Homo sapiens: one gene and its partners. The protein of the gene in region 1 interacts with the protein of each later gene in a pairwise test. Each region holds a gene or a part of one and is shown in the gene's direction. Other genes may lie near its edges.

Region 1 (6,830 bases):
ACAAAAACTTTTAAAATTAGCTGGACATAGTTGCATGAACCTGTATTCCTAGCTACTTGGGAGGCTGAGGCAGGAGGATGGCTTGAGCTCAGGAGTTTGAGGCTCCAGTGAGCTATGGCTGTGCGCTGTGCACTGTGGCACGCACCACCAAGCCTGGCTAATTTTTGTATGTTTAGTAGAGATGGAGTTTCACCATGTTGCCCAGGCTCACCTAGAACTCCTGGGCTCAAGTGACCCACCTGCCTCGGCCTCCCAAAGTGCTGGGATTACAGGCGTGAACTACCGTGCCTGGCCAATAATAATTTGTAAATTTTAGAACAATTTCCAATGTATTGAAAAGCTGCAACGGTTGTACAGAGCTGTATACACCACATCCAATTTCCCCTATTGTCAACACGTTACATGACCATAGAATGTTTGTCGAAACTAAGAAAGCAACATCAGTACATTATTAGCGTCTAAACTCCAGGCTTTATTCAGATTTCACCAGTATTTCTGCAGTGCCCTTTTCAAGATGCAATTCAGGATACCTCCACTGTAGCAAGTTTTCATGTCTGTTTAGTCTCTTCTGGTCTGTGACAGTTTTTGTCTCCCATTGTTTTTCATGATCTTGAGAGTTTGGGGATTGTACATGTATTTTATGGAATGTTCCTCAGTTTGGATTTATCCAATGTTTTTCTCATATTTAGACTGGCGTTAGGAATTTTGGGGTAGGAGACCACAGACATAAAGTACCCTTCTTGTCCTATGGTATCAGAGGTGCCTGCTATCACGCGTGTCCAGTTACTTCTTTAAAAAAATTGTGGGGCCAGGCTCAGCGGCTTACGCCTGTAATTCCAGCACTTTGGGAGGTCAAGGCAGGAGTATCTCCTGAAGTCAGGAGTTGGAGACCAGCCTGGCCGGCATGGTGAAACTCCATCTCTACTAAACATACAAAAATTAGCTGGGCGTGGTGGCAGGCACCTGTAATCCCAGCTACTCGGGAGGCTGAGTCAGGAGAATCGCTTGAACCTGGGAATCGGAGGTTGCAGGTTGGAGTGAGCCGAGATTGCACCATTGCACTCCAGCCTGAGCGACAAGAGCAAAACTCCGTCTCAAAGAAAAAAAAAAACTGTAGGCCAGGCATGGTGGCTCACACCTATAATCTCAGCACTTTGAGAGGCCGAGATGGGAGGATTGCTTGAAGCCAAGAGTTCGAGACCAGCCTGGGCAGCACAGTGAGACCCTCCATCTCTACAAAAGGTTTTTTAAAAAATTAACCAGGTGAGGTGGCATGAGCCTGTAGTCCCAGCTAATCAGGAGGCTGAGGTGGGAGGATTGCATGAGGCCGGGAGGTCGAGGCTGCAATGAGCCATGACTGTGCCACTGTACTCCAGCCTGGGCAACAGTGAGACCCTGAAGGAAGCAAGACATTGTAGTAAGATATAAATAACCCAGTTACTTTTTAAGTCATGTAACACAGGCAACAAAATTTAGCTAAAATTTAATTTTTAAAATTTTCTTTGTTATTTGCATAGTGTATTAGTATTTTATTGATACTAAATAAATTATCAGAATTTAGGAGTTTAAAGCAACACAAATTTTTTCTCTATAGGTCAGAAGTTCAACGTGGGTCTCACTGCGTTAAAATCAAGGTGTTGGCAGGAAGGTTTCTTCTTGGAATTTCCAGGGAAGGATCCCTTTCTTTGCCTTTCGCAGCTTCTAGAGGCTACTGGCATACCTTGGCTCAGGACCCCGTCCTCCGCCTCCAAAGCCAGCAAGGGAGGGTTGAGTCCTCACTTCATATCTCTCTGGCCTTCTTCCGTTATCACATCTCTCTAATCCAGCCAGAAAAGGTTCTCCGATTTTTTTTTTTTTTTTTGAGATGGAGTCTCGCTCCCATCACACAGGCTGGAGTGCAGGGGTGCAATCTTGGCTCATTGCAACATCCACCTCCCAGGTTCAAGCGATTCTCCTTCCTCAGCCTCCTGAGTAGCTGGGATTACAGGCGTGTGCCGCCACGCCCAGCTAATTTTTGTATTTTTAGTAGAGACGGGGTTTTGCCATGTTGGCCAGGCTGGTCTCGAACTCCTGACCTCAGGTGATCCACCCTCCTCGGCCTCCCAAAGTGCTAGGATTACAGGCGTGAGCCACCACGCCCGGCGAGGTTCTCCGATTTTAAGGACTCATGTGATTAGATTGAGCTCACCCACGTAATCCAGAATAATTTCCTTTTCTCAAAATTCAAACTCTTAATCACATCTGCAAAGTCCCTTTTGCCAAATAAGGTAATATATTCACAGGCTTTGGGGATTAAGGCGTGGACATCTTTGGCGGCCAACTTGGCTACCAGGCATAGGTACCTCTTATTTCTGGAAGTGATACTGTTTCTATTTAATATAGCAATACCAAATTTCCTTTTAAAGTGCATTTCTTTCATCTGGGCCAGTAGCAGATATAAAATAAAATAGGTTAGGTGCGGAGGCTCACACCTGTAATCCCAGTACTTTGAGAGGGTGAGGCAAGCAGATCACTTGAGGTCAGGAGTTTGAGACCAGCCTGGCCAACATGATGAAACCTTATCTCTACTAAAAAAAAAAAAAAAAAAAAAAAAATACAAAAATTAGCCAGGTGTGGTGGCACACGCCTGTAGTTCCAGCTACTTAGGTGGTTTACACAGGAGAATCACTGGAACCCAGGAGGCAGAGGTTGCAGTGAGCTGAGATCACACCACTGCGCTTCAGCCTGGGCAACAGAGCAAGACTCCATCTCAAAATATAATAATAATAATAAAATTAAAATAAAGTGCACTTCTGGCCAGGCGCAGTGGCTCACACCTGTAATCCCAGCACTTTGGGAGGCCAAGGCAAGCAGATCACCTGAGGTCAGGAGTTCGAGACCAGCCTGACCAACACGGAGAAACCCTGTGTCTATTAAAAATACAAAATTAGCCGGGTGTGGTGGTGCATGCCTGTAATCCCAGCTACTCGGGAGGTTGAGGCAGGAGAATCACTTGAACCTGGGAGGTGGAGGTTTCAGTGAGCTGAGATTGTGCCATTGCACTCCAGCCTGGGCAAGAAGAGCGAAACTCAGTCTCAAAATAAATAAACAAATAAATAAATAAAGTGCACTTCTCTCTCTCTCTTTCTTTCTTTCTTTTTTTTTCTTTTTTCTTTTGAGATGGAATCTCGTTCTGTCACTCAGGCTGGAGTGCAGTGGCGCAAACTCGGCTCACTGCAAGCTCCACCTCCCGTGTTCACGCCATTCTCCTGCCTCAACCTCCGGAGTAGCTGGGAGTACAGGTGCCCGCCACCTCGCCCGGCTAATTTTTTGTATTTTTAGTAGAGACGGGGTTTCACCGTGTTAGCCAGGATGGTCTTGATCTTCTGACCTTGTGATCCACCCGTCTTGGCATCCCAAAGTGCTGGGATTACAGGCATGAGCCACCGCGCCCGGCCAAGTGCACTTCTTTTTCAGTAAAAACAGTTGGCTGACTTCAAGGACATGTGAATTAAGTAGCATTACGTATAGTTCCTAGACAGGGGAAAAAGCCAAACTGGTGGAACCACTGGATAATGACTGAGGTTTGGGAAACTGAGGCTGGATGAGAAGGTTCCAGAGGCCTACCCTAAATCAGGAAGCAGCTGCGCTTGGTAGAAATAGTGTCTGTTTGGTCTGTTTGGTAGGAGGCCTGCCTCCCATTGAGCCAACAATAATCCTGTTGACATAACCCTGTTGATCAAAGCGATCCCCTGACTGCTCTGGGCCAGTTCCTTTGGCTCCTGGTGGAATGCACTCAGAGAATCCGGATCCGGTCAGTATAAAAGGTCTGGTCCCGCAGTGGGGGAGCCACATCCTGGAAGAGTGGCCTAGGACAGCTCCTCTCCTGCCAGAGCTAGGCAGGCGCCGAAGTAGCCGCATGGCCCCGTCAGAAGACCCCAGGGACTGGAGAGCCAACCTCAAAGGCACCATCCGTGAGACAGGCCTGGAGACCAGCTCCGGTAAGAGGCGGCAAAGGGACCCCAGCCCCACAGAAACACCAGCTGGGGGCCAGGTGCGGTGCCTCATGCCTGTAATCCCAGCACTTTGGGAGGCCGAAGCGGGCAGATCATGAGGTCAGGAGTTCGAGACCAGCTTGGCCAACATAGTGAAACCCCATATCTGCTAAAAATACAAAAAATTAGCTGGGTGTGGTGGCGGGTGCCTATAATCCCAGCTACTCAGGAGGTTGAGGCAGGAGAATCGCTTGAACCCAGGAGGCGGAGGTTGCAGTGAGCTGAGATCGCACCACTGCACTCCAGCCTGAGCAACAGTGTGAGACTCCATCTCAAAAAAAAAAAAAAAAAAAAAAAAGCAAGACCAGCTGGGGGTGGGTGGGGGTCTGATGGCAAACATGCTACCTCCCTTGGGTTGCTGGGATTCTCCAGCCAAGGGCGGGCTCGTTTTATTTCCTGTGCTAGCCAACCTACTAGAACATAAGCTTCCTTCTGAGCCCACGTCGTGTTTCACAGCACGTAGCTAAGAGAATGGATGTGTATGTTATTTGGGTAACTCAAAAAGTTACCTTTTTAAGAGCACAGGCTTTGGATTCAGATACAATTGCTCAGACACCTGCTTCATTGATAAGTCTATTGGCTGGTTTGTCCATCCCTCTACCCTGTGCTGGGCTCTGAGCGGGGGGATTGCCAGGGCAAATGCCACCAGGTACTGATGGGATTCTCTGAGGCTGTGGACAAGATTATCTGGGGAGGGGGAGAGTAGCAAGATGCTCCCTGAGACCCACCAACACTTGTGCAGGCTGAGCCTCAGTTTCCTCACCTGGAAAGATGGCCAGGGCTTTCCTCTCTGGGGTTGAGGACTGTGCTTTTCATAATATGGTCCATGGACCAGCAGAATTGGCATCCCCTGGGGACTTGTTAGAAACGCGAGTCTCAGGCCCCACCCCAGCCCCACTGCACCAGACTCTGCATTTTAACAAGCTCCCCAGGCAGCTCATGGGAACAGCAAAGTTGGGAGGCACTGACATGTTGGACTCTGTGTTCCTGGAAGGCAGATGGATGGATGGTAAGTGGAGACTTGAACTCAGGTCTCTCTGATGCTGAAGTCCATACACTTAAACCCTGACTGTCCTCCTCTGTTGGTGTATCAACCAATCCAGTTGAACCCTATCGAATGAATAAACAAATGAATTCAGGAAACCATGTCCCAGTCGGGTGCAGTGGCTCACGCCTGCAATTCCAGTACTGATTGGGCTGAGGCAGAAGGATTTCTTGAGTCCAGGAGTTTGAGACCAGCCTGGGCAACATAGGGAAACCTCATCTCTACAAAAAATTTTAAAATTCACCAGGCATGGTGGCATGAGCCTGTAGTCCCAGCTACTTAGGGGGCTGAGATGGGAGGATTGGTTGAGCCCCCTGAGGCTGAGGCTGCAGTGAGCCATGACCTCCAGCCTGGGCGACAGAGTGAGACCCTGTCTCAGGGGAAAAGAAAAGTCCCCTGCTTGTGCTAACTTTTGGTCTTTTCCTCTCTTCTAGGTGGGAAGCTGGCTGGCCATCAGAAGACCGTCCCCACGGCTCACCTGACTTTTGTTATTGACTGCACCCACGGGAAGCAGCTCTCCCTGGCAGCAACCGCATCACCACCCCAAGCCCCCAGTCCCAATCGAGGGCTTGTCACCCCACCAATGAAGACCTACATCGTGTTCTGTGGGGAAAACTGGCCCCATCTGACTCGGGTGACCCCCATGGGTGGGGGATGCCTTGCCCAGGCCAGGGCCACCCTGCCGCTCTGCAGAGGGTCTGTGGCCTCAGCTTCCTTCCCAGTCAGCCCGCTCTGCCCCCAGGAGGTTCCCGAGGCTAAGGGGAAACCCGTGAAGGCTGCGCCTGTGAGGTCTTCAACTTGGGGAACAGTCAAGGACTCACTGAAAGCCCTCTCCTCTTGTGTCTGTGGGCAGGCCGATTAGCTGGAAGGGCCGGGCTCTGATGCCCAGAGGCTGCAATTCCCAGGGCCTGGCCCTGCTTCCCCAGCTAAGCAGGAGTCTTTTGTGCTTGAGCCAAGGAAACATCATTAGATCCGCTAAGGGGCATCTGAAACATCCGTCGAGTGGCAGAGGCAGGATAAGTCACCTGCACATGAAGAGACTCATTCATTCATACAGCAAATATTACTGGTACATCTTCCACATGCCAGGCCCTGCAAAGTGCTGGGGAGATACCATGGTTTTCCTGGAGCTGGTATTTTTGGGGTGGAGGGAACCCACCCTGAATAAATAAAGTAACCCAATAAATAAAGAAGATGATTTTGAACAGCGATGAATGCTCTGCAGGAACTGAAACAGGATGCTAGAGGGAGAGTGATTGGGGTGAAGACCTTTCCTGATGCAGTGCTTGGTAAGGGCCTCTCTGCGCAGGCAACAAAGTGTGATCTAAAAGATGAGAAGGGGCCAGCCCTGAGAAAATCCACCCTCCCCAGGGCCACCTGCTGTCATCTTACCCCAGGGCAGGCCAGAGCAGTGGTCAGAATGCCCCAGCATGACGGGGAGGGGCAACGGGTTTCTTGCTGCCATCTTGGCTCAGAGGCGAGTGTGTAGGTCACTGCAAAGGCAGGGGATACCACGTGGGGAGACTCGAGGGCCATGCCAGTTGGGGCTGGGAGGCTCAGGGAAGTTGGCTCCAGGAGACTCCATCCCATAAGGCAGCCCAGGTGGGACCTGGGGATCTGAGATGGGAAATAAGGGGATCTGGCTTCTCAAAAGGGAGGGAGGTACTCAAAAATAGAGTATCATGTTTGAACGAATGAAAACAAGACATGTTATTTATTGAGCATCTACTGCATACCAGGCTCATGCTGCC
Region 2 (6,937 bases), on another chromosome or scaffold:
TGACTTTACTCACCTGCCCTCATCTGCAGCAGTGACAGTGGCTGCCGTTCATTGTGCCAAGTGCTCTGCATACATTCCCTTAGTTAATCCTCACCACCTGAGGGAGTTGGTATTCATATTCTACTAGTGAGGAAACTGGCACTGAGGATAACTCCAGGCACAAAATTTTGTATGAAGGCTGCCTTTTTTTTTGAGACAGTCTTGCACTGTCGCCCGGGGCTGGAGTGCAATGGCACCATCTCGGCTCACTGCAACCTCTGCCTCCCAGGTTCAAGTGATTCTCCTGCCTCAGCCTCCCGAGTAGCTGGGATTACAGGCGCCTGCCACCACACCCGGCTAATTTTTTGTATTTTTAGTAGAGATGGGGTTTCACCATGTTGGCCAGGATGGTCTCGAATTCCTGACTTCATGATCTGCCCGCCTCGGCCTCCCAAAGTGCTGGGATCACAGTCATGAGCCACTGCACCCGACCTCTTTTTTTTTTTTAATTATTATTTTTTGAGGCAGGGCATGGTGGCTCACACTTGTAATCCCAGCACTTTGGGAGGCCAAGGCAGGCTGATCACCAGAGGTCAGGGCTTACCACCAGAGGTCAGGAGTTCGAGACCACCCTGGCCAACATGGTGAAACACCCGAAAGATATTATTTTTAATATCTTTCGTTAAGGCAGCTAATAACCTTTCTTTTTATTTATTTTAGAGACGGGGTCTTACTCTTGCCCAGGGTGGTGTGAAGTGGTGCAATCATAGCTCACTGTGGCCTCAAACTACTGGGCTCAAGCTATTCTCCTGCCTTAGCTGAGACTACATGTGCACACTACCATGCCTGGCTAATTTTAAAACTTTTTGTAGAGGCAAGTTCTCACTATGTTGCCCAGGTTGGTCTTGAATTACTGGCTTCAAGCAGTCCTCCTGTCTCAGCCTCCTAGAGTGCTGGGATTATAGGCATGAGCCACTGTGCCCAGCCACCCTGCCATCCTTTTTTTTTTTTTTTTCTTTTTTTGAAACAGTATCTCGCCCTGTTGCCCAGGCTGGAGTACAGTGGCACGATCTCGGCCCACTGCAACCTCCGCCTCCCAGGCTCAAGCCATTCTCCTGCCTCAGCCTTCCAAGTAGCTGGGATTACAGGCACATGCTACCACGCCCGGCAAATTTTTTTTTTTTTTTTTTTTTTTTTTTTTTTTTTTTTGAGACGGAGTCTCACATGTCGCCCAGGCTGGAGTGCAGTGGCACAATCTCGGCTCACTGCAAGCTCTGCCTCCCGGGTTCACGCCATTCTCCCGCCTCAGCCTCCCAAATAGCTGGGACTACAGGCGCCCGCCACCACTCCCAGCTAATTTTTTCTATTTTTTAGTAGAGACGGGGTTTCACCGTGTTAGCCAGGATGGTCTCGATCTCCTGATCTCATGATCCGCCTGCCTCGGCCTCCCAGAGTGCTGGGATTACAGGCGTGAGCCACTGCGCCTGGCCTAATTTTTGTATTTTTAGTAGAGACGGGGTTTTGCCATGTTGGCCAGGCTGGTCTTGAACTCCTGACCTCAGATTATCTGCCTGTCTCAGCCTCCCAAAGTGCTGAGATTACAGGCGTGAGCCACTGCACCAGCCCACCCTGTCTTTCTTACTCCTTAAAGTAGGGGGCAAACATGGTGGTTGTTATAATCCATATAAAACTATACCCTGGACCCCCACGGTGGTTGTTATGGTCCATATAATACTATAGCCTAGAGCCCCATTCAGTCCCTTACCCAAAGTCACAAAGTTATTGAGGACCCGGGCCTCCTGACCCTTAGTCCCTCGGCTTCTTTGGCTTAAGAAGGATGTTAGGGGGAGGTGTCTGTGGTGAAACCTGCCCAGGCCTCCCTGGCCTTGTTCTGGGTTGGTGGTCATCCTTTTCCCTCTGCCCTCCAGCTTGTCTTTAACCGAACTGTCACACTGAAGGAAGACCCAGGAAAGGTGTGAGCTGGAAGCACTGAACCTACCTCATCCTCCTGGAGGGTGTGGCTACCCTCGCCACCCCAAATTCCATGTCAATAAAGAACAGCTAAATTCTCCTAGAGTCTGTGTGTTATCTCTGCACTTCTAGCATCTGAAGGCCCTGAAGACATGCTGGTGGTGGTGGTATGATTGGGGGATGGAGATGTGCCTTTTGCACATTTTGTCTGTGAGAATGGACTTTCCCAGAACAGAGTGGTACTGACAGCTTTGAAAGCACCGGTGCACTTTTTGGTGCTTAAAGGCAGGGGCCTGGGTAGGATTCATACCCTCCGCACCTGGTCTGAGAGAATGGAGGGCCCTGGGGTGTTTGTCCATGGTTAGGACCCCTGTGCCAGAGGGATCTAAAAGGTTTGTTTCTGCTGGTGTGGAGAGGCCTAGCTCCCAGTCTGATCATTCAGCATATAATTTTTTTTTTTTTTTTTTGATACGGAGTTCCACTCTAGCCCAGGCTGGAGTGCAGTGGCTCAATCTTGGCTCACTGCAACCTCTGCCTCCCGGGTTCAAGCGATTCTCGTGCCTCAGCCTCCCAAGTAGCTGGGATTACAGGCGGGCGCCACCACTCCTGAATAATTTTTGTAATTTCAGTAGAGACGGGGTTTTGCCAAATTGGCCAGACTGGTCTGGAACTCCTGACCCCAGGTGATCTGCCCGCCTCGGCCTCCCAAAGTGCTGGGATTGCAGGCGTGAGCCACTGCGCCCAATCAGCCTATAATTCTTTTTTATTTTTGAGACGGAGTCTCACTCTTGTCCCCCAAGCTGCAGTGCAATGGTGTGATCTCAGCTCACTGCAACCTCTGCCTCCCAGGTTCAAGCAGTTTTCCTGCCTCAGCCTCTTAAGTAGCTGGGATCACAGGCATGCACCACCACACTCGGCTAATTTTGTATTTTTAGTAGAGACGGGGTTCACCATGTTGGCCAGGCTGGTCTCAAACTCCTGACCTCAGGTGATTCACCCGCCTCGGTCTCCCAAAGTGTTGGGATTACAGACTTCAGCCACCGTGCCCGGCCCATTCGGCATATAATTTTTGAGTGCCTACTACGTGCCAGGCAAAGTGAGATGGGGCATACGTGCTGTGGTGGCCTTCCAAGTTCACGGGAGGGGAAATGGGTGACCAAGCACTGTATGGGAGCGGTCTCCCTGGGGCCTGTGCAAGACTGGAAGAGGTTCCTGACCCAGCCTGGGCCTCAGAAAACATTACTCTAACGAAGTGACTTCTGAAGGGAATCACGAAAGACTACGGGGAGTTTGCCAGGATAAGAGGAACAAGGGCAAAAGCTCCGAGGCAAAAAGAGTCTACAGCAGGCTGGAAGCCCTCTGGGGGCAGTGTAGGCTGCTGCTGAGGCCCGAGTGTGCCTGCAGCTTTAACGCCTTCCACATTTTCCCTGTATACAAACACTAGGCTACCCGGGGGCCCGCTTTAAGGTGGACCCAACTGCGGAAGGCTGAACTCAGATGGCAGCAGACAGCGGGAGTACCAGATGCTGACTCCTCCAGGAGGTGAGCAACCTAGAGGCTTCCCAGGCAGGGCACGGCTGGGGACGCCAGGCCCAGGACAGAAGTTTGTGGGGTCCACCTTAAGCGAGAGGCCGAGCCTGGCCAGGCCCCGCCCCGCGTGGGCGTGCTCGACCAAAGGAGGCTCTGGCGGGCGACGGAAGGTGGGTCCAAAGAGCTAGCTTGGAGCCCTAGCCTTCCGAGACTCCACTACTAGGCCAAGCCACGGCCCTAGCTCCGCCCCACATGGAGAGGCGTCCATGGGCGGAGCGAGCCGCTCCATACCCTAGGATCCACTATCCGCTCTAGCGGCCAGAAGCGCGGCCACCTTCCCCTGCTGAAGCGTTCACTTTAATTTTGGCCGGTAGGCAGTCCCAGATCTCGCGGGATCCGACGCCCCGATTATCGCGAGAGGAGCAATCGGCTCCTATTGGCTGTGAGGGTTGAATGTAAGATGGCGCCCAGGGAGCTGTGAGGAGAAAACCCTGTCGGTCTTGGAGCGACGACGGCAGAACCAGGGTCCCTGGCGGTGCGGCGGGGCCGGCGGGTGCAGCGGAGGCGGCGGCGGCGGCGGCAGTGACGTCGCCGGGTGAGGGCTCCAGTGCGGGTGGGGATGCGGCGAAGCTGTAGGCCTGAGACGGGGGGCCCACCCCACACAACGGCGGGCGGGGGCGGGCGGGCCACTACCGCTGGGCCCTGGAGAGTTCGGGGCGGCTCCGGAGCCGAAAACGTTCCTGGGCTAGCGCACCCCGCCCTGTGGATGGGGGAGGGGTGGCCCGGGGATTTGGGTGGGCGCGGCGCGAGATGGCGCGCCGGTGCGGGCGCGCGGCTGAGCCTGTTTTTACGCGCGCGCGCTGTGCGGCTCTCGGTGCGCGTGGCCGCCGACGTGCGCGTTCCCGGCCCGGATATCTCTGCTCTAGGAGCTGTGGCCCGTGGGCAACCGCGGCTTTCTGGAGCGCGCGCCCGTGACGACCCCCAGTTTTGGGGCGCGCGCTCTGATATCGGGTGGCGGTGCTGCCTCGAGAGCGCGCAGGAGGCTTCTGCTGAGCAGAGGGCCGGCCGCGGCTCGTTGCGCTGGGAAGGTTGAGGATTGGGTCCTTTCTGGTCTGGTGACGTTCCCGGGCATCCGTGGCCTCGGCCTGGAGAGAAACCAACCAGCTTTGCTGTCTGGCTTGCGGTTCCGCTCCTCTGTGAGGGGGGCGAGATTGCCCGTTCTCCTCGAAGAATGCCGTTACTTGAGGCCCAAGTACGGTGCGGGTGCTTGGGTAGGGTGTTTCTCTGCTTCGGAAACCAAGCCCTCTTGGTTTGAGAGGGCAGTGAGCCCCTTCGGATTTCCTCACCTTGTACTGGGCTTTCTGCCGGGCAGGGAAGGTTAATATTAGAAGGCCCTTGAGTGGTACCTGCTTATCTTTCATTAGAAACTAATACGTCCATAAGCGTAATTCATACACGTCACCTCTGTGCGCTCCGGAAGGGAATTCGCTTATGTGGCCCATGTGAACTCCGAGCTCTAAAATGCCAGTTTAAATCCTTAAACGCAGCTTTTCTTTTGCGTAAGTGGGAGGGGCTTACTTTATTATATTAAAGGCCCACCTTTGCCTCAGCCAAAAAGTTGGCCTTAAACAAAATGGAACAACCTGAGAATCAGTGCTTTACCTTTTTTGAAATTGCAGAAATCCCAGCAGAAATTACTAAAATCTGATAGTGTATCACTGTAAAAGTCACTTTTGGTGTAGGATTTCAGTCCTTTTCAGCTCTTTTTTTGACCCTGCCGCTGTGTTTTGGTGTCAAGGAAGTTCTAGGTTTGTTCTAGAGAAATAGGCACCTCTTTTTTCTAATACAAAACATCTGCTAGTTTGATTTACAGTCTTGCTCAATTAAGCTTAAGGAATAGGAAGCTAAGAGGAAGTAAAATTAGCCATCAAATTTGATAATGGTGGGGTAGTTCTTTCTAATGTACTGTATTGTTTTTAAGAACAAAGTTAAAATTATTAATAAAAAGAGGCTGAGGATGGAAGGAACTTTTTTGTTCTATCTTCTTCAGAATATTAGAAGTCTTAAGAACTCAGGACAAGCAGCAGAAATACATGCAACATGGTGACTGGTGAGTTAAAATTGTTCATATCCTGGAAGTATCTGTGCACAGTTTTTTTTCTGGTAATACTGAAGCATTACAAATCCTGTCAATTCTGGGTGCTGTCTTCCAGAAACTATTAGGTGCTGTAAAATGAAGATGTGGGAGAACGGCATCTTTGAATTCAGCCACAGTTCGCTACTTGCTCAGTTTTCTCCTCTTAGGATATAAGTCAGTGGAACCCGCAGATTTAAGCGTTTGCAGGCTCAGCTTTTAAACGGACCTAAATGGTTCAAAGAAAAGCTGTAAAGTTTTTCTAGGATACACTTAAAATTTTGACTTTTTTTTTTTTTTTGAGACGGAGTCTCACTCTGTCACCCAGGCTGGAGTGCAGGGGTGTGATCTCGGCTCACTGCAACCTCCGCCTCCCTGGTTGAAGCGATTCTCCTGCCTCAGTTTCCCAAGTAACTGGGATTACAGGCATGCAGCACCACACCTGGCTAATTTTTTGTATTTGTAGTATAGACGGGGTTTCACCATGTTGATCAGACTGGTCTCGAACTCCTGACCTCGTGATCCACCCGCCCTCGGCCTCCCAAAGTGCTGGGATTACAGGCGTGAGCCACCGCGCCCGACCAAATTTTGATTAATTTTTTAGGCTTGCTTGTTCTGGGTTATCTTTATTTTTAACTATTAAGCTTGAGATCTTCCTTTTAAATTGGTGTTTATAAATACTTTTTCTCCAAGTTTGTCAACTAAGATTTACTTATTAGATGTCTTCCTTCGGGTCCTCTCTGATGAATTTTTCCTATAACTCTTCGAGAACCTCTGCAGTTCCACATCCTCTCTCCAGCTTATGTTGCCATTTCAAACTAAAGATCAAATAGTGGTTTAATTTTCTTGTAAATTTGAATTGCTCTAGGAAAGTAACCAAAGTCAGGGGCTCTGGATGTGGCTGCCTTTCTTTAAGGCAGCTTCAGAATCAGGGATGTCTTTCCTTACTTTGGATATGCTTTTTTTTTTGGATATGCTTTCTTTTAGTTTAATTAGTTGTGGTTTATACTTCATGTGCCATATTTCTTTCTTGTCTGCTTTTTAAATGGCCACTCTTGATCTGTAAGGGTCTCTGATTTCTGAATTAGCCTTAGAATTAGGTGTTACATGAATACCTGTTCTTTTCTTTTTATTTTTATTATTATTTTTTGAGACGGAGTCTCGCTCTGTTGCCCGGGCTGGAGTGCTGTGGTGCAATCTTGGCTCACTGCAACCTCTGCCTCCTGGGTTCACGCCATTCTCCTGCCTCAGCCTCCGGAGTAGCTGGGACTGCAGGCTCCCGCCACCATGCCTGTCTCATTTTTTGTATTTTTTAGTAGAAAC
Region 3 (7,964 bases), on another chromosome or scaffold:
CCATATGTTTGGCCAAGACAAAGGAGAAATCAGCCAAATTGCTGGGCCTAAGCAATGCCACTCTCTCTCTCTCCTCTCTCTTTCAAATGCATGTTACTACGCAGATAGTAAGGGTCTCTGTGACCTTTACAAATGGCCTGGTGCACACACGTGTAAGCGGCCCCCATATTTGAGGCCTTGCTGATCCACTTTACAAGTGAGGAAGGTAAGGTACAGGAAGCGTAGGTTGTTTCTCCAGTTTCAGAGGGCACCGTATCCACACAGCAGTGACTGGGTAGGTCCTGGTCTCTCTCGACAGCCCAGAGTGTGTGGCCTGTCCCCGGAGAGGGTGGGATCCACGCCAGGAGGGGCTGAGTGGTGCTGACTGCCACCCCCTCCCATCACCCCTGGATCATCATCTTGTTTTCCAGTGGGGTCTCCTTTCAGGGCTCTAGTTCACCCCAAAGCTGACCTCTTCCAGTGAGACCTTCAAACCCTTACAGTGCCCTTGCATGAAGTGGCAAAGTCAGGGGAGGGGTGGAGAGTGGAGGATGAATTACAGAAGGAGCCCCCCTGGGGGGAACAATTGCAAAGATGTGTTTTCAGGGACAGTCCTCACGACCGTGGGCGGTAGCCATGACGTCCGGTCTCCCATCTCCTGGAGCTGTGCATCCACCATCCAGTACAGCACCTGGACACTCCCTCTCCCTTAGCAGTCCCCAGCATCGGGCTCATGGGCAAGTCCTGTGGATTTCACTCTGTGGAACCTCTCCAATCTGTCCATTTCTCTTCATCCTGTCTGCACTGCAACCCCCTGCAGCAAGCCTCCGTCTCTCACTTGGAGCCTGTCACAGCCTTCTCCACTGCTCTCCTCAAATTCATGCAGGATAATGTATTTCCTCCTCCCATTCCTTTTCCAGCACTCCAGCCAGATGGACTTTTCTTTTTTTTTGAGACAGAGTCTCGCTCTTGTTGCCGAGGCTGGAGTGCAATGGCGCGATCTTGGCTCACCGCAACCTCCACCTCCTGGGTTCAAGCGGTTCTCCTGCCTCAGCCTCCCGAGTAGCTGGGATCACAGCCATGCGCCACCACACCCGGCTAATTTTGTACTTTTAGTAGAGACGGGGTATCACCATGTTGGTTGGGCTGGTTGCGAACTCCCGACCTCAGGTGAGCTGCCCGTCTTGACCTCCCAAAGTGCTGGGATTACAGGTGTGAGCCACTGTGCCAGGCCGCCAGATGGACTTCTCAAAACACAAATCTGATCCTACCCACTCTGGCCCCAAACTTTGTAAAGTCTTCCCCATTGCCTCAGGAGCAAGACGACACCCCTTCCTCGCTGACAAGGACGCAGTTGTGCCTTCACTACCTTTGCTGCCACATCTCACCACCTGCCTCCTCTCGTCTCTACCCCCACTGTGGCTGTGTGACCCCAGGTGTATTGCTCAACCTCTCGTGTCTTCCTGTTCTTCACAAAGAATAGGAATTACAGTGAAATGTGCCTGGCTCATGGGCACCCAGCCCATGGTAACATGAGCACATCCGGAATCAGACTCTCTACTAAACGCTTCATCACCTCCATGCCATGGACCCCTCCCAATATCCCTGTGAGCTGTGAGATCTAAACACCAGTTCCCAGAGTGGGAAGCGAGGCCTGAGAGCCTCAGCAACTTGCCCAGGGAAGGCTCAGACTCTAGCCCTGGCCGGGCAAACTCCAAGTCCTCGCACTTAAGAACAACCAGGCTCAGCGTTCCAGCATTCCACTCGGCCTCCTGGGCTTTTCCTGGGCCACCGAGTGCATCGTGTTTACTTTCTCTTTCTCTACCCTAGTGACATTCTCAGAAAGAGGAACCGTCGGAAGGTTCCAGGGTTTTCTTGATGTGGGCATTTCGAGGTGTTGACAAAAGGACCTCTGTGACCTTTACTTATGGCCTAGTGCACACACTTGTAAGTGGCCCCCATATCTGGTGCCACACAGGCCAGAGTGCACTTCCCGCTCCTCTTATAATGCCCTCACTAATGTGACTGTAACTTCATTAACTCCAGGCCAGATTGGATCCTTGTACCGACTGGTGAGTAAGCGAACCTTCACTACAGACAGCTGTCTTTGCTGATGACTAGCTACTTCATTTTTAAAATTACGGTGAATCAACTATATGCCAATATTGAACAATGCCTTCCTTTTTTAGCTTCCTGAGCAGCAAAATAAAAACTAAATCAAAACCATCAAAAATAAAAAAGTGTAGTAGCTCATGCCTGTAACCCTAACACTTTTTGGGAGGCTAAGGCGGTAGGACCGCTTGAGTCCAGGAGTTCAAGACCAGCTTGGACAACATATTGAGACCTCTGACTCTACAAAAAATAAAAAAAAATCAGGCAATGGTGGTGGTGCATGCCTGCAGTCCCAGCTACTCTGGAGGCTCAAGCGAGAAGATCACTTAAGCCCGAGAGGTAGAGGCTGCAGTGAGCTCTGATTGTACCATCGCACTCCAGCCTGGATGGCAGAGCAAGACCCTGATGCAAACAAAACAAAACAAAACAAAACAAAACAAAACAAAACAAAACAAAACAATCACTAACTGCAGCACAATCATAGTTTTGATTGGCTTAATTTCTGATAATGCCTAGTCAGCAGTGGCCTTCAACAAACCTCACTGTAGCTTGTTGGATGGTCACAGATGGATTCACCTTTGCCCACAAGTTCCTCCTCTTGTCCACTCACACCTGTTCATGACGCCGAGCCCAGCATTGCACAAGGCCTGGGGATAGGGGAAGTGCAGCTCCAGACACGGACTTGGGAATGTTTTGAAACAACAGGAACGACATCACCCTAGGTTTGTGTTTTCAAGCCAGATATTCCGGCGTGGATGCTAAGAATTCTTACATGGGCAAGTATTAATATTTGAATGCAGCCGTGATTGAGGTGGAGGTGGAGACAAAAGGCGTGCGTCCCTAGAACATGTTTTGTCCCCACTGCCGGAGGGAATATTCTGTGTCAGCTATCGCACGCACCCTTTCCCTCCATGTGAGTGGACTCCACACTCTAAGCAAGGCGCTCTGGACTGCAAACTCAGCTTGTGCCTCTCTCCAGCCCTGTGGCCTCGCTGGACAATTTTTCTAATCTCTTTGGAGCTGATCTTCATGTTGAAAAAGGACAAGTCCCATCTTCAGATCAACACCTGTCCCAGCGCTGCCATTTTGCCAAGGCTCCTCCTTGGAGTGTTTGTAAGGCACTTTTGCCACGAAGTAACCCAGCCACCAGCCTCAGTGGAACCTCCAAGCCTAATTCTGGAGGAGACTTTAACTCGGTAAGGTTGCCCAAGGTCGCATAGCCCATGACTGCGCTGAATCCTGTTTTTATTATTGGCAAAAGGGAGTTGGGCAGGAAATTCAAGGTAAAGCATTTTGTTTTTCTTTCTTTCTTTTTTTTTTTTTTTTTCTTGAGACGGAGTCTCGTTCTGCTGCCCAGGCTGGAGTCCAGTGGCGCCATCTCGGCTCACTGCAAGCTCCGCCTCCCGGGTTCACGCCATTCTCCCGCCTCAGCCTCCCGAGTAGCTGGGACTACAGGCGCCTGCCACCGCGCCGGGCTAATTTTTTGTATTTTTAGTAGAGACGGGGTTTCACCGTGTTAGCCAGGATGGTCTCGATCTCCTGACCTCGTGATCCACCCGCCTCGGCCTCCCAAAGTGCTGGGATTACAGGCGTGAGCCGCCGCGCCCGGCCAGCATTTTCTTTTTCCCAGTGAAAATAGCTGCCTCGCCCTGTGTTTGGGAGCTCAAAGGCATTCTTGCTCATTGCAAATAATTGAGGAAACAGAGGCGAGTATAAAGAAGAAAATGAAAGGCAAGGTAATCCTAGATTAGCAGAGGGAGATAACCAGGAATGACATTTCTGGGAACTGCGCTATGGTTTGGGAATTTTTTCCTGTGATTACCCACAAACGCACATTTGCACATTTATTCTACGTGTGCACATTCACGTCATCACTTTTTTTTTTTTTGAGACAGAGTCTCGCTCTGTCGCCAGGCTGGAGTGCAGTGGCGCGATCTCGGCTCACTGCAACCTCTGACTCGCGGGCTCAAGCGATTCTCCTGCCTCAGCCTCCCGAGTAGTTGGGATTACAAGGCGCCCGCCACCACGCCCGGCATAATTTTGTATTTTTAGTAGAGACAGGGTTTCGCCATGTTGGCCAGGCTGGTCGCGAACCCTTTACCTCAGGTGTTCCGCCCGCCTTGGCCTCCCACAGGGCTGAGATTACAGGCGTGATCCACCGTGCCCGGCCGCCATCACTTATTTATATTATGTGTTACCTATAGGACTTATCTAAGACCATAATCACTGCCGCGTGTGCTAAGTCCCGCGCGCGTGCACTCAGGCCCCTCTGGATAGACACTGGGGACCCCTGACCACTTATGTCAGGGAAAACGCCACCAAGCGCTCCGGAACCTCAGGGCAGGACCCGCCGCAGCAGCAGGTAGGACCCGCTGGGGGCGCACAGCCCACCTGAGACATCGTAACTACAAGTCCCAGCAACCCTTGGTGCGGGGACAGGACGGGCCACCGGAGTCCGGAGAGACTACAAGTCCCGGCAGGCATGGCCCAGACGCAGGGACTACGAGTCCCCGAATGCATGGCTCCCAGCTTGCGCAGGGCACCCTGGGAGGTGTAGTAGTTGAGGGAGCTAATGCGTATTCATTCCGTCTCAAAGAAGATGCAAATTCCTCAGACCGTCCACTGAGGTGATTGTTCTCACGCAGGCCATGGGCGTGGGCGAAAAACGGGGGGAAAAAAGCCCTGGGAAGCCGGTACCGTCGCGGAAGAAGGCCGCCTGCGCATGCTCACCAGGAGGCCGAGCGGGAAAAGCGCGCGCAGCTGGCCTCACTGCCACAGGGGTGCCCCGCCCCCGGGCCCGCGCGCCCAGTGAGCCTGCGCGGAGGGCGGGGGCCGAGCGTCGCGGGGAGGGGCTCGCGGCGCCTGCGCAGAGCGGCGGCTTCTCTCGCGAGGACGGACGCCATTATCGCATCTCCCCGACAAACACCACGAGAATTCCGCAGCCCACACGGTAATTGCAGCTCCCGCAGCCGGTCGCGCCTCCGCCTCCCCCTTCCCGCGGGGCGAGAGCGAGAGCGAGATCTCCCTCCTCCCTCCTCCTCCCGCCCGCCGGGCCGCCCGCGCCGCAGCCCCGCCGCCGCCAACCGCCCGGGCCGGGCGATCGCCCCCCGGGCCCCGCTCCCCGTCCCCGGCCGCGCCCCGGAAGAGGGGCTCCCGCTTCCTCGCTTCCGCACCCCCGGCCCCACCGCGCCCGGCGTCCGTTGAGCCGCGGCTGCCGCAGCCCGGCCCGGGGGCCTCGCGCTCCCGACCTCTGTCCCGGGCCTCGCCCCGCGGGAAGGACCCGGAGCCACGGCGGGGAGACTGGAAAGGCCTAGAACCGCGCCCGGGCTCCTCTGGGGCCCGAAGTCTCCCAAGGGGGTCGCTCCTGCCAGCCAGGCGGGAGCGACAGGCATCGTTTTTGTGCCTCCTCCGTGGCTGTGGACCGGAGCCCCATAGCCCAGGACTTGCACACGCAAGGGGCGCTCTCGGGGACCGCAGACCTCGGCGACGACCCCAGCCCGTCCCCCGAGGGGCCCCGATGAACGAGGACCTCGGGGTGCCCCCTCCCCAGCACGTTTGTGCGATTTCTGTGATCTAGTCCTTAAGGAAGGTGGCCGTTTTCTTTTTCCCCCCTAGGATGCAGAAAGTAGATGACATTCCATCCACACTGTGTGAGCAAATTGGAGAGATTGCCTTGATAGAGGACTGATGTTTTTCACTGATGAGATGGTAGGGGTTGTCTTGCTATTGGAGAAATACATCATCCCTGAAGAACTGTGAGCAAGTGGAGCGAGTGTGGGCTTTGAAGGGTAGCGAGCTTGCACCCTGACCGGGGAGGGCCCGGGTCACACAGTTGTTGATGTGGAACAGGTAATTGCCCTGTTTGGAGTTGCCTGTTCTGCCCAGGAATGTACTCCAGGGCCTGATGGCGATGCTGGAACTCGCACTACAGTAAATAATTGATAAGAGGAGGCAGTTGTAGGGTTCACTTTTAGCTGGAAGTTCTTAGGGGACAGAAAAATAACTTGGAGTAGTGAGTGGTTCTGAGTAAGCTCAGGAAACGTCAAATAAAAACTGGATCTGGTCATTTAACACGCAGCTCGCAGATATCCAGTGCTAGAAGAAAACACCAAAACGCGGTAAAATTCTGTATGTGGGTCCACTTCCCGTGTCTGGCGATTAAAATAAGAATATATTCTTGCGATGTTGGATTCTGTCATCATTGGCGTTAATATTTTTATTTTTTTGGAGATAGGGTTTCACTCGGTCCCCGAGACTGGAATGCAGTATCGTGATCTTGGCTCACTGCAGCCTCGGCCTCCCTGGCTCAAGTGATCCTCCCACCGCAGCCTCCTGAGTAGCTCGGACCACAGACGCCACCACCCCGGCTAATTTTTGTATTTTTCGTAGAGAGGGGGTTTCGCCTTGTTGTCCAGCCTGGGGCTTTAATCTTTTTAAAAAAGAGCTTCCATTTGTGATTCCACGCTGCGTGGGGGCAGCTCAACATCTCGGGTGCTTCATCATGACCCAGGAGGCAGAGGCTGCGTCCACTTTATAGATGAGGTGACTAGGCCCGCAGACACTAAGGGACTTGCTCAGATTTACAGAGCCAGGGTTCGAATTCAGTCTGTCTGAAGCCTATGTTCTTAAAAAAAAAAGCCCATATATTTAGTATTTTAATCAATATAATGTATACAATAGGAACGTCAATGAAAGACTTACAATGAAAAGCAATGGTCCCCTGCCCCACCTCTCAGCCCCGTTCTTCAAAGAGGTTTACATCTTGAGTGGTTTCTTTAGGTCATTCTCCACAGCTCTGAGTAAGCTGATCCTTTTTATTTTTTTCTTGAGATAGGATCCCCTGATGTTGCCCAGGCCGTACTCGAACTCCTGAGCTCAAGTGATCCTCAGCCTCCTTAGTAGCCGCTAATACAGGTGTGAGTGACTGCACCTAGCTCTAAGCTGATATTTTGTATTACACAGCCTTGTCTTTCTATTACGATGGGGTGATGGAGCCCTTCTGTCATATCCCAACTCTTCTATCCCCTGGACTGTCTGTGTTAGGCCTATGCAAATACTGTTCTCTTCACGGACAAATTGAGTGTTTCCCTTCCTGTACAGCGTGGATTTTTCTGTTAGTCATGGCTTTTCTCTTGGCACTTTCTGTTCCCATCGACTCCTTACATTGTTTTAAATTCTCAAGGATAGTGTCAGGTCCCCTTTCTCCTTCAGCCCCTGTCCTTCTCATCTGGATGGGTTAGCTTGCACACGAGCCAGCCTGATATTTTCCTTTCTTCTGTAGCTGGGTATGTTCAGGAATGTTTTCATCTTGGCTCTGTTCGTTTCCACAGGAACCTCTGGCAAGTGCTCTTCCTCCTTGTGGAGACCCCTCTCCCTCCCTGAACGCTCTTGGATCTTCTCTTTGGTGTTAATGATGTTTTACCCTTGTGTGTGCTGAGGTGTGTGGATTCCTACGCCGGGGACTCTGACTCTGGTGCTTTGTCCTTCAGCTCTGGGAAGTTCCCTTGTTCTGTCTGAGAAGTTCTTCCTCTCCAGCTCTGCTCTTCTGTCTTAGGAGTTCCTGTTTGTGATGGACGTTCTAGGTGGAGCCCTGGAGTTGCGTCTTTATCCTTCCTTCTGTGTCTCGTTTATTCTCATTCTGGGAGAGGGCTTTAATATGTGTTCACAATCAAATTTTTAATGTCCAAGCATGTATTTGTCTTGTTTCTTTTTCATAGTAGCTTATTGTTACACAAGTGCCTCATCTCCATGACTCTAAGGAAACTAATAAGGATTCTTCCCAGCTCTCCTTTGTTCTGATTTCTTGTTTCCACTAATGTCACTTAAAAAAAGTGTTGGCTTCTTCCTCTTTATGGCAAGTCCTCCATACTGAT
Region 4 (7,112 bases), on another chromosome or scaffold:
GAGTCTATCAACCTGTGATTTTTAAGAGCCCTGTCAATCATTCAGCTTCTACCTGAATAGTTCTGGTAACTGTGGGACAGATCTCTTTGTTTAAAATGTGTTTTTCTTTAAATAAAACATTGAGCTAAAATTTGCTTATCTTGCCTTGAACAATAGAAAAGGCGGCAAAACCACAGATGTGACTGGTGAAGTTGTTGGAGAAATGTGCTTCACTGAAGTGGCAGTGTTGCTTTTAAAACAAGATGAATTGGCTTTTGGTCAGTGTTCATATTGAAGCTGGTGTCAGATATGGCTCAGGACATTAGAATAAGTAGTAGATGCAAAGAGTTAATGCCTTCTATTTAGGGTCAAGAGTATTATTATTATTATTATTATTTTTGAGATGGAAGTTTGCTCTTGTTGCCCAGGCTGGAGTGCAATGGTGCCATCTCAGCTCACTGCAACCTCTGCCTCCTGGGCTCAAATGATTCTCCTGCCTCAGCCTCCCAAATAGCTGGGATTACAGGTGTCTGCCATCATACCAGGCTAATTTTTGTATTTTTTTTTTTTTTTAAGTAGAGATTGTGTTTCACCATGCTGGCCAGGCTAATCTCGAACTCCTGACCTCAGGTGATCCGCCTGCCTCAGCCTCCCAAAGTGCTGAGATTACAGGCATGAGCCACCATGCCTGGTGGTCAAGAGCAGTTTTTAAGAGTAGGGGCAGAACTGAGCCTGCCTTGGGAACCTAGCAACTCGAGCTATAGGGAGAAGAAGGACATTGAAACTGAGAATGCAGCTGGGTCTTGTAGATATTACGTGTTACTAGTCATAGTGATCTTTGAGAGAGAGTTTCAAATTTAAACATTTTAGACTACAGAAGTGTTCAGAAAAGTTGAATTGTTTGAGACCTTTTCAATGCTAGCTTCAATACTTTCATTCTTTCCTGTGTACTACTGTTGCATTTTTTGATATAAATTATTTGAGATGAAGAAGTATGACTAAGAATCTTTTTAAAATTTGGACTCAGCCTACATTGCATAGGTGGTAGAAGGGTTTAAGAGTCTCTATATTTTGTTATAGGCCTTAACTTCTAGGCATCTTCATTTGGATGTTAACTTTTGTATTTGAGCAAATCTTAAGGTGCTTTTGGAGCAAAGTTTTAGCCAGGACTATAGTTTCATAATTTGGGACCTAGAGCAGCAGATTATGCAGGTTGTCAACACCAGATAGTCATACTCATTGCCTTAGGTTGAGGTCCTTCTTCCTATTCCCAGAACCATGACTCTGGTGTAAGTCTTATCATTTCCAAAGTAGGTTCAGGGCATGCATCTCTGACATGAGCCTTGTTCTATATCCTGCTGCTAAGATAACCTTGAAACCTATTTTAATTACTTCATGCCTCAATAATCCCACAGTGTTCTCACTGTATTAAATCTAAATCCCTCAAAGTATAGGTGAGAGCCCTCTATCACAAATTCCACCTTTTTCTCTGAAGCTTCCAATTCTGTCCTATTAATCCTTTTAAGAAATATATCTTTATTAATTCATTTACTCATTCATTCATTCATTCATTCATTCAAGGAGTAACCAATATTTATTTACTGAGTACCAGGTGCTTGAGTTTTTTAATCCTCACAACAACCTTGACCAGAAGGTTTATTAAAGATCACAATTTAACAAATAAGAAAATTCAGGTTCAGAGAACTTTATGCCCAACATCACTCCTTTTCTCTCATTATGTTCTATGCTCTCTCCAGTGTACCATACTTCCTCTCATTTTGCAAACATTTAATGGGCTTTTTTTCTGTGCCAAAACTGGTGTTAGGTGTTAGGGCAAAGAAGATGAATGAAACACTGAGATCATATATATGAACATGCATGTGAAATTATAAAGCATTATATGAAAATTGAAACTTTTTCTTCTTAATAAGAAAAAATTCAGTCTAGTGGAAGAAACAGGAATAAATAACTTTGTCCTCCAAACTTCCCTTGCCTACTTTTACCTCCTTTGCCAAGCTTGTCCTTCAACCTGAATTTGACCTTTCACATTCTGAAGTTTGCTCACTTACCTAGTCATTCAGATTCTTCCACATACTTTACAATTAATTCATTCACCAAACACAAAGGGGTCTTATATTCAAAGCAGAATTCTAGGTTGATACTAGGGATACAAACATGAACAAAACTCAGTCAAGTGGAAGAGATAAAGTATAACTAACTTCAGGCTGGGCACAGTGGCTCATGCCTATAACCCCAGCACTTTGGGAGCTGGGGCAGGAGGATTGCTTGAGCTCAGGAGTCTGAGACCAGCCTGGGCAACAAAAATGAAAAAAAAAAAAGAAACATTAAAAAAAAATTAGCCAGGCGTGATGGCACACACTAGTAGTCCCAGCTACTTGGGAGGCTGAGGTGGGAGACTCGCTTGAGCCTAGGAGCTTGAAGACGCAGTGAGCTACGATCATGCTACTGCACTCTAGCCTCAGAAAAAAAAAAAAAAAAAAAAGACTAACTTCAGAGCAATGTGAGAACTGACAAGGATTATAAGATTGTGGGGAAAAGAGGTATGAGACTGTAGGGAGGAAAGGAGGGAGTGGTTTTAGCCGGAGATCAAGGATGAGTAAATGATCTTAAATAGGGAAGAAGAAGTATGTTTCAGAGGGAAGGCACGTACAAAGGGACACAGGTACCTTCTGGAGCCATGAGTGATCAGCTGGGCTGAAGGCATGGCACCTGAGGAAGCCAAAGAGTCTGGAGCCAGAGAAGGCATTTGGACTCAAATGGGATCTATTGGATTGTACCCTATTGGCACTAAGGAACTACTGCCTACCCCCCGCCCCGGCTTCTCATGCAGGACTATGACCTAGAATTGGAGTTATGTTATAGAAAGATGGCTTCAAGTTCCCCTTTGAGGAGCTCCACAGTAAATAAGCCATTTAGGAGAGAGGTCCCCATTTCTCTGGACTCACCATTGCCTCCAAAAAAAAAAAAAAAAGGCTAAAATCTCCCCAAAAGAATGGCAAATGAACAAGGGAAGGAAGGAGCTATTTCTTAGTGTTCTTTAGACTTTAACAGAGTATTATGTACTGCTATTATTATTTTTTAGGTTAACAAAAGTAATACATTGTCTCTAGTGACTCCCTGAATGCTCCTTTGTAGCTTAATAGTTGAGGCTGAATGTAGCTATTCAGAATACCTGGACAGCTATGGATGGAAGGGGCTTCTCTAGGCTAACTTTTGCTCTCTTGTCTCCTGAATAATCTGAGGGGTGGCATGGGATGCAGTCTGTTAACCTCTTAGAGCCTGTACAACAGAAATACATTACATTTGACTTAATATGAACTCAACAGTTATTTAATGAGTCCTATTGTGGTCCTTGCACTGTGCTATATTTTACGGATATAAAGATAAAAGTAAGAAACAGTCTTTGTCCCTGAGAAACGCATTGTGAAATAAGGCTGGGTGAGTTGGCTCACGCCTGTAATCTCAACACTTTGGGAGGCCAAGGCGGGAGAATCACTTGAGCGACAGAGTTCCAGACCAGCCTGGGCAACCTATTGAGACCCCCTCTCTTCCAAAAAAGGAAAAAAAAAAAAAAAAAAAAAGGGTGCGGTGGCTCATGCCTGCCCCGTGCCTGCAGTCCCCAAAACAAACAACAACAACAACAAAAAACAAAAAACAAAAAGAAAGAGGAAAGAGAGATTTTAACTTAAGTATAATAAAAATTGCTCATACTATGTTAGTTGTATGAATAAAATGCTGTGGGAAATGTGGGAGTAATATAGCTCACAAGGTTGCTGTGGGGGTTAACAACAACAAAAAGCGAAATATATGTGTAAATGAAAAAAAGTCAGTTTTAGGCTTAATTATCACTGAGTAAACATTGCCTTTATATTACTTTGGCGATCTGCAGAACGCGCAGCCCTCGCCATTCAGGAGTTGTTAGTTCCCTAAGCCTCAGGTTTCTTTAGTCTGGCTGAACCAAAAGGAGTTTCTGCTTAGCTAGGCAGGGCCGGGGGACAACAGCTTCTGCGAGTCTGCGATTGTGGCGGCCGGTATATTCGGCGGTTTACGGTAATGGGCGGGCCCCAAATCCCCATGTGGTCCCGACATCATTGACATGGCGGAATCCCCCATCAAACCCTCCTGGTAGTTATTTGAGCGGCGGCGGCGGCGGCTGGAGGAGGAGAGCGGCGGCGGCGGGAGCAGCGAAGGGGGCGGCAGGGATCCTCCAGGCTGCCGGCTGGGAAGGCGTGGGCGACCCGGTGTGTGGCGCGCCCAGAGCCCCGCGTTTCAGCCCTAGGGAAGGTAAGGCGTGCAAGAGCCGGGGACTAGAGGAGACCGGGACCCCGAGCGCGATCGCCGGGTCCCGGTGCACTGGAAAGCCCCGGCCTGACGCCGAGTCCGCCAAAGTGCGTCCCTGTCCCGGGAGCGCCCTGGGCTTCCCGGCAAAAACTTGGCGCCGGAGTGCTGGGGCGCCCCGTGCTCGCCTGGGCACCCCGGGAACACGGGACCCGGGAGGGGGCGGCCCCCGCCTTGCTGGGCTGGGGTCCCCCGCCTGTGCCCCCTGCCTCAGGGTTTGGAGGAGTGAAAGAAACGGGTAGATTCCTCTTAAAAAAAATTGGGCAGTGGCTCGCGGCCTCCCCCCACCCCCAGCCTTCCCAGCAGATTTTGTCCGAGGAATCCGCTCCCCCTCCCGGAATCTCCGCGGCAGGAACGCTGCCCAGGAGGGGGAGGGCGGGCGGCGAGGCCGAGGAATCTTCGACGTGTCACTTTCTGAGGCTGTAGATTTCCATATGGTGGAGGGAAGAGGGCGGGAGTGCGAAGTGGGGCTGGAAGTTGGGGCCGCCTCTCCGCGCCGGCGGGGGCGGTCGGGGGCCTCGAACCCGGGGATGCTCGCGGGGAGGGTCCCGAGCCCGCGCCGGCCTGGCCCCCCCGTCCCCGGCTGGGCCTCTCCGGGACACTCCCCGCCCCGCTGCTGGCCACCTCCGAGCACGCCACGTCCTCCTCCCCGTCCTGCCCCCCGGGCTCCCCCCGGGCTGGGGGCGGTAACCGGCGGCCGCGGCCGGACTTGGCGAGCCGGCGGCTGGAAGCTCGGGCGGGGGAGCGGGGCGCGGCGGGAAGGAGCGGGCGACCCGGTGTGTGGGCCAGCGGAGCTCCGGTCAGTCGGTCACCCCGAGGGGCGCCTCGGCCGGGGATAGGGCGGGCGGGCGGAATCTGCGCCCCGAGGCGGCCAGGAGGGGCCGCGCGGACCGTCTGGTGCCCGCGGCTGGGCTGGGGCCGGCAGGCGTGGGAAGGGCCTGTCACTCTCGGCAGAAAGTGGGGCCTCGGGCTGTGCCCGCGAACTTTCCCAGAGGTCCGGGTCCCGGCGTCCCGTGGGAACCGGAGGACCCGGGCCCGCCGTCTCGGGAGACTGGGCTGCGCCGCCCGGCGGCGCCTTTGGCGGGGAGGCTTCCAGGAGTGCGCGGTCGGAGTTGGAGCTTTTGGAATCTCAGCTCCCACCCTGCCATCCCAGACGAAGGGAAGCAATGGCATTTTATCCAGACAGTGCCGTTTGCAGACTTCCTTAAAAGTTATAACTTTTTGTTTTCTTTTCTCCTCAACCCAGCATTTTATTTAAACAAAATTTAGAATTTGGCCGCAATGGGCCAACGCTGGGGCCAAAAATCCACAGGTTTCTCTCTCCATCCCTGCTGGTTTCTAGTCCCCCCTCCCCCTCTTCCCTCCCAGGCTTAATCATATTTTGGAACGGGTGAGGTCTTTTGTTGGGTGGGCACCCCCTGATTGCTTGTCTGTTTATTTTTTAATGTGCAACTAATTTGATTTGAATTTCCTTCAGTTTCCAGGCCTTCCTAGGGAAAGCTAAGGGAGAGGGAATATGCTTTTTAAAAATCGTTTTCTTTCTTTCTTTCTTTCTTTCTTTTTCTTTCTTTCTTTCTCCTTCTCTCTCCTTCCTTCCTTCCTTCCTTCCTTCCTTCCTTCCTTCCTTCTCTTCTCCTCCTCCTCCTTCTTGTTCTTGTTCTTCTTCTTTTTTTTTTTTTTAAATAAATGTGGCAGGAGGTGGGGCGTTGGGAATGGGGAGGCACGGTGGTTGTGGGCAAAGAGTCAGAAGGAGCAGACAGACCCGGAAGAAAAGGAATCTGCTCTGGAATAACACTTTTTTTTTGAGGCCTCAGGCCTTGGGCAAAATTGCTTCGCTCTGTAATGATTTCTGCTGCCGGAGTTGCTCCTCCACCCCTAAGTTAAAGCTATGAACCTGGGTGCCCGGGCAACGCCCCACAGTGGATAGCAGCCGGGAGCGCTGGTTTTGTGCCTTTTGTGGGGGCCCTTGGTTCCCCCTCATTGGAGGCTGACTCTGAAATTTACTGGATCAGTAAATTTCCTGGCTCCCTGGGAGCAGCTGTTAACGAGGATAAAGTCTCTGGGCATGTTTCTGGCCCTGCAAAAGGACCTCACCCATGAAGGTACAATTCTCACTTTGTTTAGATACCAGAGGGGCACCCACAGGCTGGCTGAGAATGAGGCATAGTTGATTAAAAAAAAAATCAGTCATTACAAAATTGTTTTTAAACTCACACGTGCTTTTAAAGTGTTGTGGTTTAAATTACTTTAAGATAAAAAAAATTCATCTGTAAGGATAGCGTTCATTTAAAAGATGCTAAAACTGCAGGATCTCATCATGAAATAGGAGGTTGTAGCTTCTAATTACAGTATATACAATTTCAGAAAGATATTCCGGTAATCTTTTAATACAGACTTTATAAATAGCTCACATCAGACGATGGGTTATATTGGAGAGCCAGTCTTCTGCGGTTTCTTGAAGAATGCTTGGGATCTGTGAGGAAGCTCTAGGCCCTTGGAGGCTAGGTAGCAGTTCACTCAGTAGGAGTTTGTGCTCCTTTTGCTCAGTATTTAACCTGGTAGCATTTGATGGATAAGTTCATTAGGAGCTAAGTAGAAGAACTTACCACACTTGTCAGTTTGGAAAATGAGGCCCGGGAAGGGAAAGTGACTTGTTGAGGGTCACCATTATAGACGAAAGTTTAATACAGGATTGTGTTAATAGCTCCTTTCTGGGATATCTGATGTGTACTAAGCACTAATTCCTGTGCTTTTATACATTATCTCATTAAAAT

What was found.
Region 2: the proteins of SRARP (region 1) and QRICH1 interact in binary tests that used the Homo sapiens proteins (3 or more experiments, as listed by UniProt).
Region 3: the proteins of SRARP (region 1) and BANP interact in binary tests that used the Homo sapiens proteins (3 or more experiments, as listed by UniProt).
Region 4: the proteins of SRARP (region 1) and FNDC3B interact in binary tests that used the Homo sapiens proteins (3 or more experiments, as listed by UniProt).

The regions. Positions count from the first base shown.
Region 1 is NC_000001.11:16,000,406-16,007,235, forward strand, and holds the start of SRARP (steroid receptor-associated and regulated protein), read left to right. Parts: upstream 1-3,830; 5' UTR 3,831-3,898; coding exon 3,899-3,980; intron 3,981-5,513; coding exon 5,514-5,941; 3' UTR 5,942-6,830. UniProt on the Homo sapiens protein: May regulate the transcriptional function of androgen and estrogen receptors.
Region 2 is NC_000003.12:49,091,050-49,097,986, reverse strand, and holds the start of QRICH1 (transcriptional regulator QRICH1), read left to right. Parts: upstream 1-3,915; 5' UTR 3,916-4,075; exon of another isoform or gene 4,076-4,093; intron 4,094-4,376; exon of another isoform or gene 4,377-5,039; intron 5,040-5,530; exon of another isoform or gene 5,531-5,590; intron 5,591-6,937. Other genes in the region: QARS1 (glutamine--tRNA ligase), read left to right, coding at 1,908-1,958. UniProt on the Homo sapiens protein: Transcriptional regulator that acts as a mediator of the integrated stress response (ISR) through transcriptional control of protein homeostasis under conditions of ER stress.
Region 3 is NC_000016.10:87,946,475-87,954,438, forward strand, and holds the start of BANP (protein BANP), read left to right. Parts: upstream 1-4,959; 5' UTR 4,960-5,041; intron 5,042-5,706; exon of another isoform or gene 5,707-5,940; intron 5,941-7,964. UniProt on the Homo sapiens protein: Controls V(D)J recombination during T-cell development by repressing T-cell receptor (TCR) beta enhancer function. Binds to scaffold/matrix attachment region beta (S/MARbeta), an ATC-rich DNA sequence located upstream of the TCR beta enhancer.
Region 4 is NC_000003.12:172,035,488-172,042,599, forward strand, and holds the start of FNDC3B (fibronectin type III domain-containing protein 3B), read left to right. Parts: upstream 1-4,090; 5' UTR 4,091-4,284; intron 4,285-5,043; exon of another isoform or gene 5,044-5,137; intron 5,138-7,112. UniProt on the Homo sapiens protein: May be a positive regulator of adipogenesis.